Linked DNA regions of Homo sapiens. The protein of the gene in region 1 purifies or fractionates together with the protein of each later gene. This does not show direct contact. Each region holds a gene or a part of one and is shown on either strand. Other genes may lie near its edges.

Region 1 (3,500 bases):
CGGTCCAGATGATTTTTATGGGCAAGTTTTTATCAAACCTTCAAAAAATAAAAATAATTCTCATGTCATACAAACTATTTTCAGTTTATAGGGCAAAAAGGAAAATACTCAACTCATCTGCCTAAGTCAGCATAACATTGGTACTAGGAAAACACAAGAAAAGACAACCAAAGTACACAAAAATGTGAATAAAAGAATTGCAACTCACAAAAATATAATACTTCATTTCTCGACATACCTATACTGTATGGACATGCATGAAAACAGAATGAATGACTGGCAATGGTGGTCACCTCCAGAGAGAAGTTTGGGATGCCTAAGTATGTATGTTTGTAGAGGGAGAGGGCTGATCATTTATCTGCATTACTTGAAATGATTTCAATAATAAAAAGGTACTCATTTTTAAATAATACAACAACAAAAAAAGAGGATAAGAAAAAGAACTCAAGTTCAATTCCACAAGGAGAAATAGTTAATATTTAACTGGATGTTGTGAAAATGTTGCCTGGAGTAGACTTAAACTGAACTTTTCCTTTTTTTTGCTGATGTTCAACATTACCAGCCAAAGGACTGAATGAGTTTTGCTCTAGGCAAGGATCTTAGAAGTTTATTCCATCATTTTTTATTAATATATTTTTCCTTCAGGAAAAATTTCTCCTAAGGATCATACTCTTTGCCTACCATCTATTTTATCCTTATCTGCAGAATCCAAGATAAAATTTAAATACTATTTGTAGCTACCCAGAGTATTCAGAATACTCCAACTTTACACAGAAACTTGCCTTCTGACCTCAGTTTCAATGTTAAATGTGTACTCTTCAGAACTTGATACCCAAAGAAAGCAAAGTTCCTTTTGGAGCCAGTTTGTTTGGATTAGTTTTCCAACTTCTTTGTGCCTCAGTTTTGTTTGTAAAGTGGTCATAGTAACAGTGGTTATGATAATTATGTGAGATAATCTTAGCTAAGTGCTTATAAAAGCACAGATACACAAAAGACACTGTTTATGGGCATGTCATTATTATTATTACTCTGTATTTACAAGAGTAGCTAAATTTCTACTTAGATGAAGGCTATCTCTCCTATATTATATTTAGGAATATGTTTAAAAATTATAAGACTTTGGGCCAAAGCTGGAGGAGCTTATCTTCTTCACTTACCCCTTCGATGAGGTTCAGACATTCTGTCAGAGTGTTGTTAATTTTACTGGACAGTTCGAGTTGTGCTTTCTTTTCTTCCTCTTCTTTTTCAATGCTCTTCCAGAATGAAATATTCATTTCCTTTATTACTTTTCTTTTTGTTTTAAGTTCCATAGGAGGCCGTTTATAGGTTTTTCCCTTAGATTTCTGCCATTCTTCTAGTTGTTTCCTGAAATTCAATTAAAGGGAGAGTGGTTTTATTTATTTTTAAACATAGTCAAGCTGCTAAAGTATATGATATGTATAGATAGAGTATAATTAAATACTTTCAACTACAGACAAAATCAGGAGAATGGAATTAAAAAACAATTTACAAATGGGTAATGGCAGCATTGGGTTGCGCCCACCCACGAGAAGGCAGACACCAAGATTCTAAGATCACACGTGGCCAGCACTTCAGACTTCAAATAGAATTCGTGATTATGCATTATTTTTCTCGGAAAGTTTTCACTTCACTATATGCTACTTGACACTTGCTTTCCTAAGACATCCCTCTATTTTTGAGATGACTAACTCAGCAATTCATTTCTCTCACGCATAAGCTGTCACTCAACCCAAACCCACCAAGCCTGCATTCTACCCTCAATAAGGTCTTGGTGTGTAAACTGACCCACTTCACCTAGTTCCTTAGCCCTCTCTTGACCAGACATGACTCTTTCATAAGCTAGACCTATAAAGTCAGGGCTCTTAAGTAGCTGATCTCTGATAGTGCCAAGTGTCCCCCACTGTTCACATTTTCCACTCCAGCTTCTAACAGGTGATAGACTGCTTTTTGGGGGTAGGGGCACCAAGACATATAGACCTCATGTTTGGATGTAGACACTCCAGTTTCTTTAAATTACAACTACATATTAATAATGACTTCCAAGTGTACATTTCAGTCCAGATCTCTCCCTGGATCCCCAAACTTTGTAAAACCCACCGCCTAGTTGATATCTTTTGATGTCTGACAGGCATTTCAAATTTAATACTGTCACAAACAAAGTTATTGATTTTCATCTCTGCATCTGTTACAAATTTTTCTTACTTTGGTAAATAGCACCCCAGGCTGTGTCACTGCCAAGAACTTTCCACAGCTCTTGGAATAAAATTCAAAATATTTTCCAAGGCAGAAAGGCACAGTGTAATCTGGCTCCTGCCTACCTCTCCAACCTCGTATCACACTAGTCTCCCTGTCACTCACCCCCTCCAGGAGCTCAGGTATCCTTAAAGTTTCTTTTCTTTTTTTTTTTTTTTTTTTTTGAGACAGTTTTGCTCTGTTGCCCAGGCTGGAGTGAAGTGGCATGATCTCAGGTCACTGCAACCTCCGCCTCCTGGGTTCAAGTGATTCTTGTGCCTCAGCCTCCCAAGTAGCTGCAATTACAGGCGCGTGCCACCACACCCGGCTAATTTTTGTATTTTTAGTAGAGATGGGGTTTCACAATGTTGGCTAAACCGGTCTCAAACTCCTGACCTCAAGTGATCTGACCACTTCAGCCTCCCAAGGTGCTGGGATTACAGGCGTGAACCATTGTACCCTGCCTCCTTGAAGTTTCTTGATCCAGACTCATTCCTGCCTTAAGGTCTTGCATCTTCAGTCCTCCCCTCAAATGACACCTCCATGAAGACGCAATTACCTGTAATTACCGTGTCTTATTTAGTCAATGTGTTGGTTTTCTGTCTCCTCCACTAGAGTGTAAGCTCTATGAAGGCAGAAACCTTGGCAGTCCAGTTCCCAGCACAGTGCCTAGCACACATAGGTATTTAATAACACACAGTAAAATTCACCTTTTAGTGTGCAATTCTGAGTTTTGACAAATGCATCAAGTCATTTAAGTCTGACTATTATCAAGCTATAAGATGGTTGCAACACTATCACTAATTCCCTCATGCTCCTTGGTAGTCAGTCTCACCCCTAACGCCCCCCTCCTGGCAATCACTGATCCGTTTTTTGTCTTTATAGTTTTGGTTTTTCCAGAATGCCAATAACTAAGTTTTGAATGAATGAATGCTATTAACTCTCATTTCTGACTCCAGAGCAACATCCATGCAATATTTATTATTTCAGCCCCAAATACTGCCCCCTCACCTTCACTCCAACCACCTACTTGATGATACAAGGTGAGACATTTGGCATGTGCTTCCTCCATGTTCCTAGCATTTTCCCTATCTCCTTAGCCTTCCTTCTAATCATAAACGAAGAGTGAACTTTCCCTTTCTAAAGGCAACTTACTCCTAGGACCTCGATGCCATAATTTTGTTTCTCTAGTACTTTCTATATATACACCAAACAATTAGCTCCAGAAAGGTAAAGACTCACTGTGT
Region 2 (3,500 bases), on another chromosome or scaffold:
TGTGCCCCAGGGTTCAGCATCCTGGCTGTCTCTGCCTCCCTCACTCCTGCCTCCTCTCCCACTCCCAGGACCTGGCGACTCCCCTGGCCTTTGCCCACAACCCGTCCCGGGTGTGGGAGTTCTACCACTACCGGCGGGAGGTCATGGGGAGCAAGGAGCCCAACGCCGGGCACCGCGCCATAGCCGAGTGTGAGACCCGGCTGGGCAAGCAGGGCCGGCGAGTCGTGGTCATCACCCAGAACATCGATGAGCTGCACCGCAAGGCTGGCACCAAGAACCTTCTGGAGATCCATGGTGAGAGACCCCCAGCCTCCCATTCAGGGAACCAGCTTTAAAACACCTGTCCTGCTGTTTCAGCATCACCTCTGGTGCCTTCCCTCCCTCCCTGCTGGACATCCGTCCTGTCCTATAGGATGCTGTGGCATTTCCTTTGGGGACATGTTAGTGTCCCGTGGCACCTGGGCAGCTGCCTTTGGCCATGGGAGGAGCCCCTGACCCACTAACATTATTCACTTAGCAGTTCCTCCATCCTCGCTGCTCAGGGTGGTCTAAGAGCCAGCAACATTTGGCGTCCCCCAAGAACTTGTTAAAAATGCAGAATCTCAGGCCCCATAGGCCCCACTGAATCAGAATCTGCATTTTCCCATGAGCCCAGGTGGCTGGCGTGCTTTTTATACTGGAGGAACGCTGGGGTGCACAGCTGCGTGACCCTTTCCTCTGTGGAGGGGCACGGTACTGTGAGACAATGGCCTCAATGAGCTGAGGAATAAGAGGCCTGGCCCATTGGACAGCTGGGGCTTGAGCAGGAGCAGACTGCAGCATCTTGGGGTCTCCTGTCACTCCCCCTTCATCCTGGTGGGCACTCCCCACTGAGGCTGTGCTTCTGCCCCGCCCTGGAGCCTCAGAGAGCTGCCAGCTCAGTGCTGGACACTGCACCAAGCCCACCAAGCCTGTGATGTCGGTGGACCCCACTGAGGCTGTGCTTCTGCCCTGCCCTGGAGCCTCAGGGAGCTGCCAGCTCAGTGCTGGACACTGCACCAAACCCACCAAGCCTATGATGTCGGTGGAGTTTGTCTTGGGTCCCTCTGGGCTCCTTCCTCTGTCCTGGGTAACCCCTCACCCCTTCACTCTTGTCTTCTGGCTCCTCCCTTCTTTGCTGTCACCACAAATCTAAAACATCCACTTGTCCACAGTCATAATGGGCAAACTAGGGTTTCCCCCAAGGCCATTTGCATTTAAAGAGTCTGCATTCAAATCCAAGGAATGCATTTCTTATTTTTTAAGCATTTATTTCTCTTAATTTAATTTAATTTAATTTTTTTTTTTTTTTTAGCAATGGGGGTTTCACTCTTGCCCAGGCTGGGGTGCAGTAGCCTGATCATAGCTCATTGCAGCCTTGAACTCCTGGCCTCAAGGGATCCTCCCACCTCAGCCTCCAGAGTAGCTGGGACTACAGGCACATGCCACCATGCCCAGCTACTTTTTAAAATTTTTGTGGAGAGTGTCTCACCATGTTGTCCAGGCTGGTCTCAAACTCTTGGCCTCAAGCAGTCCTCCCTCCTCAGCCTCCTAAAGTTTTGGGATTACAGGCTTGAGCCACTGTGCCAGCCAAAAATGCATTTCTAAGTGTAGCATTTCCAGAAGCAGTGCACCAGTCGGGGGTGTTTGTTTTTGCGTGTGTGTGGTGAAGCTGCCTGCTTTTACTTAGATCACCCTGATAAGGAAAGCGAGGCACTACTCATTTCGACTGTGTCTGTCTTTTGTTCATCAGGAACAGCCAGCCACCTATTAACCGAGCATCTTTTTGGTACCTACATCTGCTGGGTCTGAGCCACTTTCCATGTGCCTCTGCTGATTTCCCTGCAGTGTCAGAATGTGGGCTATGTCATCAGCATAAAACCGAGATGACAATGCCTATCTTATAGAATTGTTGTCGGGATTAAATAAGATCATATATGTGTGTTAGTCAGGACTTTTTAAAATTTCAAACGATGAGAACTCTCTTCTAACTTAGGTTAAAAAAAATCAATGGCATCTTCAGTCTGATGAAGGGTTTTTTTTAAGATGCATCATGTTTTTAATGTGGCATTTAGAATATAATCTGCCTAAACCATGATATACTATTTTATTATCCCTTAGAATTATTCTATACTTAGAGAAAGAGCTTGTTAAAACTTAGACACGTTCTTTAGAAATTATATCTTTCCAGGCATACATAAAGTATGAGTATGATAAACTGGTCCAAATATTTCTCATTATCTAGCTCTTCTAAATGATTCTGAGTGACTCAGAGCACGGATGTCTGTGTTTTCCATGCAGTTTCATGCTCTGTGTCTCGGGAGATGGATGATGCAGCGTTTCCTGAGAGAATGCCCCTCTGTTATAGCTGGGATTCTCATCCAAGCTCCTGACACACCTTCCGCAAGTTCGCTATTGGGCCTGACATGTTCTTACCAAAAGGCATCAGTGGAAAGGCTGTAGACAACAGCCAAAACTTGCTTTCCTTCCTGAAGTGGCCCTTGAAGGGTTTGTTGGCGGAAGGATCCAGGGGCTGAATCTGCCCGGTCAGGCCACGGAGAATAACAACAAAGTCACCCCATTTTTCAGTGTTCTCCTTCAACAAGTCTGTGCAAGCATGATGATGATGTTACAGTCTCATCTGGCCAGTAGCAATTGTAGGACACATCTGAATTTCAGAGATGTGAAAATGGGGAAAAATGTCTATGCTAAAACTGACAAAGTAGGTTTATTGGCTCACAAAACTGAGGAGCCTAGTGGTGCAGCTTATGTCATCTTTCCTCCCGGCCCCTGTCCCCCTCCTTCTTTCAGCTTTGCTCACTCTTTGAGGTGGCCTCCCTTCTCTCTCTGCAATTGATCTGTCTCCACGCGCCAAGGGAGAGTGCCTCCGACGGCTCCAGCTCAGCCACCTGCTCAGAAAATAAACCTCTGGGTAGGCTTGCTTGGTCCACACGCCCACCCTTCTGACCAAACACGACTGCAGAGGGATGGACACCACATGGGGGCCGTGCGCAGCATGTGGCTGAGCTTGTATTTGGGATGTGACCCACAGCCCTATTGGCTCAGCATGCGAGAGAGCAGGGATGGTGCTCCCCAAGGAAGGACTGGTGGGCAGGACGGAGCAGCGCATGTCCACTAGGGTTGAAAGTGCTCTGCACGGCACCAGTTGCCTGGTACCCATTTCATAAACTGTGGCCACCATGATTGCTTCAGCTCAATAAGTGGTGGTTAGTATTAACAATTACTTTTTTCACTTATTAGTTGATTACTTATTTATTGAGGTGCTTTTGTATAAAAGATTCAAGCTTTCTGAAATCGAAGTTAAAATTTTGTAAACATATCCCACGCCATTGAACCTTTGTCAGTCATGTCAATAAATCACGCCCTTAGATTTAGGTTGAGCTCCCTCTACCCTATTGGCAACTTCTGCCCACTTGAACACCACTCCAAGGTCATCTGATGGCACATTAGTCATGGAGTTA

The links. The genes of interacting proteins can lie anywhere in the genome.
Region 2: the proteins of CKAP2L (region 1) and SIRT5 purify together in Homo sapiens (affinity purification with mass spectrometry; one large-scale study listed by BioGRID and IntAct). This does not show direct contact.

The regions. Positions count from the first base shown.
Region 1 is NC_000002.12:112,751,110-112,754,609, forward strand, and holds part of CKAP2L (cytoskeleton-associated protein 2-like), read right to left. Parts: intron 1,366-3,500; coding exon 1,158-1,365; intron 1-1,157. UniProt on the Homo sapiens protein: Microtubule-associated protein required for mitotic spindle formation and cell-cycle progression in neural progenitor cells.
Region 2 is NC_000006.12:13,591,601-13,595,100, forward strand, and holds part of SIRT5 (NAD-dependent protein deacylase sirtuin-5, mitochondrial), read left to right. Parts: intron 1-68; coding exon 69-294; intron 295-3,500. UniProt on the Homo sapiens protein: NAD-dependent lysine demalonylase, desuccinylase and deglutarylase that specifically removes malonyl, succinyl and glutaryl groups on target proteins.